2 separate regions of the Homo sapiens genome follow, and region 2 is linked to region 1. Evidence: fine-mapped expression QTL. Tissue or cell type: whole blood. Region 1 holds a variant in brackets; the other region holds the start of a gene. All regions are shown on one strand. Distances are from middle to middle.

What was found. PIP is the estimated chance that this variant, and not a neighbour inherited with it, causes the effect.
Region 2: it holds the start of SPG11, and the variant in region 1 is fine-mapped to the expression of SPG11 in whole blood (TOPMed, PIP 0.98).

The regions. Positions count from the first base shown.
Region 1 is chr15:44,725,017-44,729,366 of GRCh38, reverse strand. It overlaps the pseudogene RNF4BP. Among named protein-coding and RNA genes, the nearest start is that of TRIM69, 9.3 kb to the left of the region's middle. RefSeq lists enhancers at 1-470, 471-1,458, 2,482-2,776. The variant G/A (reference allele first, on the strand shown) is at 2,660.
Region 2 is chr15:44,661,570-44,665,569 of GRCh38, reverse strand. It overlaps SPG11 (SPG11 vesicle trafficking associated, spatacsin), which reads left to right and starts at 1,908. Exons shown (of 40, transcript NM_025137.4): 1 at 1,908-2,179. The coding sequence starts at 1,923. RefSeq lists enhancers at 1,444-1,613, 1,654-2,133, 1,608-2,564, 2,674-2,813.

The DNA.
Region 1 (4,350 bases):
AGCAGCCCATCAATGACCTAAATATGCTGTCTGTTCCACCCAGTCCTGCCCGGTAGTTATTCAGCGATGAGAGAGTAGGAAGCTTGAGCTCCAGGAGTGTGCCACTTTCCCGGCCCTCCGTGGCTTCCCAGTCCCGGACAGAGACCTGAGCAAGCCGAACCCGGGTGCCTGGCTGCACTGGGCTGGGAAGGAGGACCGGGCGGCCGCAGGCCAGGGAGGGCAATTGGAGAGAGATAGAAGCAGAGGGAGGGGGAGGCAGAGGAGAAGGTACTCGACGATGGACGCGCCCAGGCTGGGGGCGGCGCCCACAGAGCAGAGCCAAGGTCACGAAGCAGAGCGTCTGCGTGCAAACTCCCGGAACTGGATAGGCTAAAACACTAGCTTGTCACCCTTTTAATTCGCTTTTACAGTTTCCGAACTGCCCAATCAAAACCCGAGCCCAGGGTCGCTCGTCACCGGTCTCTGGACAAAAAGCGCTGTTTCAGATTAGAAATCAGGACTTTCCCGTCCTGGTTTCTCTTTCTTCAAAGCCAGCTGCTTTCCGAGAAAGGGGAAGGGCAGGGTTGCTTCCCTCACCCCACCCCATGCAGTGATGAGATCAGCAACTTCCCACTCTCTAGATAAGTGATTCTCAGTGGTTGTTCCAATGAAGTCACTTGGAGTATTTATTAAGAGGCCGAGGGCCAGAGGTCGCAGTCCTCTGCAAGCACACTTAATGTATAAAAAAGCAGCCGGGCGCTGTGACTCACGCCTGTAATCCCAACACTTTGGGAGGCCGAGGTGGGCGGATCACTTGAGGTCAGGAGTTCTACATCAGCCTGGCCAACATGGTGAAACCCCTTCTCTACTAAAAATACAAAGATCAGCTGAGGGTGGTGGCGCGTGCCTGTAATCCCAGCTACTCAGGAGGCTGAGGCAGGAGGATCGCTTGAACCCAGGAGGTGGAGGTTGCAGTGAGCCCAGATCTCGCCACTTCACTCCAGCCTGGGCAACAGAGACTCCGTCCAAAAAAAAGCCTGCATATAATCTGGGCTTACAAGCACCAAGGACATGTAAGAAATGTGTTTTATATTTTTATATTTTTTTATTTTTTTATTTCTTGAGTATTTATTGACCATCTACTACCTCAGGCTCATATACACTGAATTTTCCAGGAATATAACTACCAGGTAACTCAAAGGAAGATGTATGTTGGTTTTTTATTTTTGGAGTTTTACCTAGAGATTTTCGCCATTTTAGAAAATTACACCAGAACCTGCAATACCATACTTGAATCTGAGCCATCAATCCAGCGTGCCTCTCAGTCTTCCATGCCGCTGGTTCACAGAGATCCTAGGCAGTTGCAAGTGTCTGGCACTTCTTTATACCAGCAGTGCAGCCAAGCTAGAGCATTCACAAGCTAAATTACTTAATTTTCATGATCATATTAGTAAAAGAATCACCACAAAACAATTGTTATAAAAAGGGGTTGTTGGGGGAAAGGGAGCTGTTGAATATGATTGGGGTTGAAACCTCTAATCCACACTGCAATCCTGGGGACGGTGCCCACCTCAGTCTGCCAAGCCTGAGCTTGGATACTGAGTTTCTATCCTAGAAATCTGTCAGATAAGGCTCCATTACATAAATGACTTGGTTGCTGCATCGTCACTAGGAACCCTTCATTCTCTTCACCTTTCCTGGCCTCAGTAAAAAAAAAATACACCTTCATTCTGGAAAACCCCTATGCTGCCAGAAAAGAGTTCTACCTGTAGGCCTACCTTTGGAGGAACTGTCCAGAATGAGTCAGGGCCATCTTGTTACTGAAAGCCTTTTAGGGAAAGGGATTCTCCCGTAGTTTCTTCTTTCATCAGATTAGTGCCAAGAAGTTTTCCATTGTACAAAATGAGTATCCTTAATCCAAAAATCTGAAATCCTAAATGCTCCAACATCTCAAACTTTTTGAGCACCAACATGATGCTCAAAGGAAAGGGTCACTGGGGCATTTTGGATTTTAGATTTTCACATTAGAGATGCTCAACTGATAATTAACAAATATTCCAAAAATCAAAAAAAAATCCAAAATTTAAAACACTTCTGGTGCCAGGCTTTTCGGATAAGGGATACTCAACCTGTATCTCCCTGCTGTGGTAATTTGCTCTAATGAGCTGTGAAAATAAAGAACCACTGGAAGTAAAAGCAGTTGCCTGGAGTCTTGCATCTTAGAGAGCCCTTCTCATTGCCATCCCCTTCTCAGAACCACCCTAAAAAGAGTGCCCGGCACAAAGTAGACACTCCATATTTATTTAACAAATGACTAAGTGAATAAATAAGTAAATTTATGATATAGGAATAATTATCCCATTTTATGGATATGGTGACAAAGGGTCAAGTCAGCAATATGACTCTTTTCCAATTTCTTTTGTGGAATTAGGATTCAAACTCAGGTCTGAGTCCAATATCATACACACTGTAATGCTATCCCCTTAGAAACTTTGAACTTGTAATGGAAGTTTGGGGTTGCATGTGTTATGGGCCCAGCAGAGGATGTTGACAGGAAACATGACTCACCCAGATCTGGCTTTATAAGCCAGTCCTCAGCTTTTGCATAGTTTGCTGCTAACAGCTAGCATCTGCAATTACCCTCAGTCCTGCAGATTACCCTCAGACACTGGAGGGAGCC[G/A]GAAGTACCTCGGAGTTTTATGTTTCACCTCGTTCCACAACCCTGGATAGCCAAAGACAGGCTGATGAAGAGCACCAAAGCCCAGCTCCTTTGTGTTGAGGCAGGAAAAACTCTGAGGTGTGTTCTTTGTTCTAAAGCTTCCCGTGTGATCAGGCTGAGTGTAGGACTTCGGAAATCATGCTCTCGCTTGGCTTCTTCCCATTCCCTGTCCTTCATCCCCCACTCCTTTACTGTTCTTTTCCTAGGAGCCCCCCACTTTTTTTTTTTTGAAACAGAGTTTCACTCTTCTTGCCCGGGCTGGAGTGCAATGGCACGGTCTCGAAGAGCCCTTTCTTAACAAGTCATTTGCATCCAAATCTTTGGCTCAGGGCCTGCTTTTGCAAGACTCCACCTAAGACACTCGCTGACTCTTCAGATGATGAAAATGGCATGCACACTTGCAGACAGCTAAGGATTCTGTCTTCGTCTTTCTGTTGCTATAGCAGAATACCTGAGATCAGGTAATATACAAAAAAAAGAGGCCAGGTGAGGTGGCTCATGCCTGTAATCCCATCTTTTTGGGAGGCCGAAGACTGGAGGATCTCTTGAGGCCAGGAGTTTGAGACCAGCCTTGGCAACATAGTAAGAATCTGTCTCTACAAAAAGTTTTTAAAAACTAGCGATGCGGCCGGGCGCAGTGGTTCATGCCTGTAATCCCAGCACTTTGGGAGGCCAAGATGGGTGGATCATGAGGTCAGGAGATCGAGACCATCCTGGCTAACACGGTGAAACCCTGTCTCTACTAAAAATACAAAAAATTAACCTGGCGTGGTGGCAGGCACCTGTAGTCCCAGCTACTTGGGAGGCTGAGGCAGGAGAATGGTGTGAACCCAGGAGGCAGAGGTTGCAGTGAGCCGAGATCGCACCACTGCACTCCAGCCTGGGTGACCTAGCAAGACTCCATCTCAAAAAAAAAAAAAAAAATTAGTGATGCATGGGGGTGTGCATCTGTAAGCCCCGCTACTCAGGATGCTGAAGCAGCAGGATCACTTGAGCCCAAGAGTTTGAGGCTGCAATGGCACAATGGCAGAGCAAGATCCTATCTCAAAAAAAAGAAAGGAAGAAAAATGTATGGAAGAGGCTGAGAAGTTCAACATTGAGGGGCTGTATCTGGTTTGCTTTGGGTGAGGGCTTTGTTCCGCATCATAACATGGGTAAAGATATCAGAGAGGCATCATAACATGGCTAAAGATAAAGATTTAGAGGGGCACAAGAGAAAGAGCGAAACTGGCTTTTATAACAGACCCATTCTCAGGATAACCCATTAATCCATTAATCCATTCATGAAGGAGCCCTCATGACCCAGTCACCTCTTAAATGCCCTACTTCTTAATACTGTTATATTGAGGATTAACTTTCTTTTCTTTGCCTCATTATTTTTTATTTTTTAATTTAATTTATTTTAGATAGATAGATAGATAGATAGATACATAGATACATAGATACATAGATACATAGATAGACAGATATGAGGTCTCACTATATTGCCCAGACTGCTCTTAAACTCCTCCTGGGTTCAAACAATCCTCCTGCCTCCGCCTTCCAAGTAGCTGGGACCACAGGTGTGTGCTACCACACCCAGCTAATTTTTGTTTGTTTGATTTTGTAGAGAGGAGGACTCACTATGTTGCCCAGGCTGGTCTCAAACTCCT
Region 2 (4,000 bases), 64 kb after region 1:
CAGCATTGACCTCCAGGCTCAAGTGATCCTCCCACCTCAGTCTTCTGAGTAGCTTGGATTATAGGCATGTGACACCACACCCAGCTAATATTAAAAAAAAATTTTTTTTGGCCAGGTGCAGTGGCTCATGCCTGTAATCCCAGCACTCTGGGAGGCCGAGGTGGGCAGATCACCTGAGGGTCGGGAGTTTGAGAACAGCCTGACCAACGTGAAGAAACCGCGTCTCTACTAAAAATACAAAATCAGCCAGGCATGGTGGCACACGCCTGTAATCCCAGCTACTCGGAGGCTGAGGCAGGGGAATCGCTTGAACCCAGGAGGCAGAGGTTAGAGGTTGCAGTGAGCCAAGACTGTGCCATTGCACTCCAGCCTGGACAACAAGAGCAAAACTCTCAAAAAAAATTTTTTTTGATTTTTTTTGTAGAGACAAGGGTCTCCCTATGTTGGCAAGGGTGGGCTCCAGTGATCCTCCCAACTTGGCCTCCCAAAGTGCTGGGATTTACAGGCATGAGAAGACTGTCCTGATTATAAGGGACAAGGCTTTGTTGTAGCTAACACAAGTGTAACCTTAGAAATTGCTTTAACGTTGCCATTTTTTACAGAAAGAACACAGCCCCAGCTAAGCTTAGAAGGTTGAATATATCTCCCTTGTGATAGAAAACGTTTGGTTTCAGCTGGGCACGGTGGCTCACGTCTGTAATCTTAGCACTTCCAGGCTGGGACAGGTAAATCACCGGAGGTCAGGAATTCGAAACCAGCCTGGCCAACATGGTGAAACCCCGTCTCTACTAAAATACAAAAATTTAGCTGGGTGTGGCGTGCGCCTGTAATCCCAGCTACTGGGAAGGCTGAGGCAGAATTGCTTGAGCCCAGGAGGCGGAGGTTGCAGTGAGCCGAGATCCCGCCACTGCACTCCAGCCTGAGTGACAAAGCGAGACTCCATCTCAAAAGAAAAAAAAAGTTTGCTTTTATTTTGACAAATAAGGTCATGCATTGATCAACAAATGCGGGAGTACCTTTCATGAAACATGCACTGTTTTAGGTACTAGCCAGGACAGTGGTGAGCAACAAAGTCCTTGCTCTTTTGAAGTTTACATTCTTATTGGACAGGAACTGGCAGAAAATATCAAGTAGTGATAAATACTATGATTAAAAACAAAACTAGGTGAGAGACTGCAGTAGAAGGGACCTTAGGTTGAATGGCTTGGGGAGGCCTGTCAATAGAGGTTACATTTATGCTGAAATGTTCTGAATGTGGAAGATGTGTTAAGAAGGTACAGTTGTCTTTTAGGAGACTTTACCAAAATACCTATTCAACCCCTCTTCTCACCTCAAACTCTTTGCTCCTCTCCTTCTCTTGATCTTGGATCATACTTCCCTGAGAAAACAGACAGGAGCTCTCTACCATCTCCACCCCTTACTTACCCCGTCTCTCTGACTGTTACAATGGATATTATTTGACTTCAAATTTCGGGTCAACACCCTTACTATGGATCCACACTGTAAGACGGTCCATGCTACCAAGGAAATGGCACCACCCCAGAGCCTGTAAGCGAACAGCACAATAAGAAAAGCGAAGAAAAGAGGCAGGAACTGGGTTCCAAGGGAGCTGGAGGCAGCTGGACCAAGAAGGCAAAGAGCAATGCCACAGAGCGAGAACGGCTGCAACGGCCTGCTACGCTAAGCTAGGCCTTCAAGCATGCCAGAGCAGTTAAGCAGAGTGGGACTGGCGTCAGGGCAGATGTGGCTTTGCTAGAGAGGCTGGTACTGCCCCCCACAGGAAACGAATGGAATCGACCGGAGACAGCCGAGAGGTCTCCGCGGGAGTCACGAGGCCGAGCGGGAGCCGCTACGTACACCGCGCATGCCCACGACGCAGTCAGGTTCCGGCGAAAGTGACCGGAAGTAACCGCCGGGCCAAGATGGCTGCAGAGGAAGGGGTCGCGAGTGCTGCTTCCGCCGGCGGTAGCTGGGGCACCGCGGCCATGGGGCGGGTTCTACCGATGCTGTTGGTGCCAGTCCCCGCCGAGGCGATGGGGCAGCTCGGCTCCCGGGCGCAGCTGCGCACACAGCCGGAGGCTCTGGGGAGCCTGACGGCTGCGGGCAGCCTCCAAGTGCTTTCTTTGACGCCTGGCAGCCGGGGCGGGGGTCGCTGCTGCCTGGAGGGCCCCTTCTGGCAGTAAGTGCTGAGGGAGAGTTGGGCCGTTGGGGGAGTCCAGAGCCTAGGCTCGGCTGACTGAGCCCCAAGGGCTCACGCCGAGGCCTCCCTGCAGCCATAGAGGTGGCGGGAGAAGGGTGCCAGCTGCAGGAAACGCCCCAGAGGCGAGCGTGGTTTCCTCACAGAACCTTTCCCCCGACCTGAAACGCTCGCCTCGTTGCATTCTGGCAGCCCAGCTCTCCTGTTCCGGGTGGGCGGAGACGGCACCCAGCTCCATTGCCACCTGCGGCGAACCCGGAACGGGTCTCAGCTGAGGCGCTGATTCTTTCATTATTCAACACAGGTTGATTAACTGTCACAGGGTCGAGTCCCATGCCCATTTCTTTCAGTTAAAGATGCCAGCTGAGGATCATCTCTAATTTGAATCATCCTGATACTTTTTTCATGTCCTTGAAGTGAATAGCGTTTTCTTTCACATGTAGTCCTCTTCTTCAAGGACAGAGTCCAGTTTGTCCCTTCATTTATTCAGCAAATATTGTGTGCTTGCTGTTACATAGGAGCAGTGCCTAAAAAGTTGAGTAAGACACTTCTTTCTTGCGAGGCGCGCATGTTTGGGGAAGACAAACATGATTACAATAATGCATTACTTTGTACTTCCGTAACTCTTGGTTCAGTACTTAAGAGTTTACATCATAAAGTTTGGGAACGCCCTCTTAGTGTTTTGAGTGGGCTGCTGCTTTTTTTTTTTTTTTTTTTTTTTTAAAGATAAGGTCGCTGTCGCCCAGGCTGGAGTGTAGTGGCTCAGTCACGGTTCACGGCAGCCAGCCTTGACCTCCCGGGCTCAGCCTCCCCAGCAGCTACGACTACAGGCGTGCACCACCAGGCCTGGCTAATTTTTCTAGTTTTTGTAGAGATGAGGTCTCACTGTGTTGCCTAGGCTAGTCTCAAGCTCCTGGGCTCAAGTGATCCCGCCTCTCCCTGCCAAAGTGTTGGGATTACAGGTGTGAGCCACTGAGCCTGACCTGTTCTTTTAATAATTATTAATAGTAAGTATTTTCACAACTCTTTCTTTAAGATGAGTAGCCAAAAGGTGTCTTATTAATCTTGGAATCTCCAGCTCCTCTAACAGCTCCTGACATTTAGAGATTCATTTGATACATCAGTGAATGCTTAACTCTTCTGGGTTTGTCTTCTCTACCCTTGATGTCTAGTTGCTCGAAAGAGGAATCTCTGCGTTTAGTTTATAAACTTATTATAAACTAAGTTATTTATAAACTAGTTTAGGGGAAATTAGTTTATTTAGCAGTATCAAGTACCTATGAATGTGGCTCTGTAAAGAGAGGAATGGGGCAAAGAAAAGCCGAAATCTTTAGGTGTTTGAGAACCCAGCAGGGAAGGTAAGACCGAGATGAAATAAAGGGGGCGTTCATATGCTAGTTCATGAAATTAGAGGGGAGGAGGACCAAGAAAGGACTTTTTAACTTTTTTAGTTGAATTGAATTTTAATTCAGTTAAAATACTTCATAGGTTAAAAATAAGGGCATGTTTATAGTATTTAGAGTTTACTTCCTACTTTTTCAAAGTACATAGGTCTTTTTAATATTGTTGAAATTACATCATATATCTTGTTTATTGCATTGAAAATTTCCTGTCTTTCCATGTGGCAATATTGTCCCTATGCTAATGATGTACTCTACCTTTTAAGTATATCTTAGTTTAACCTTTTGTATATTTGACATTTAGGTTATTTTCTACATTTATCAATATGAACAGTCAGAAAAATGTCTTTTTTTTACCTAATAAGGACATATTAATACTATAATAGTATAAAACTACTATAGT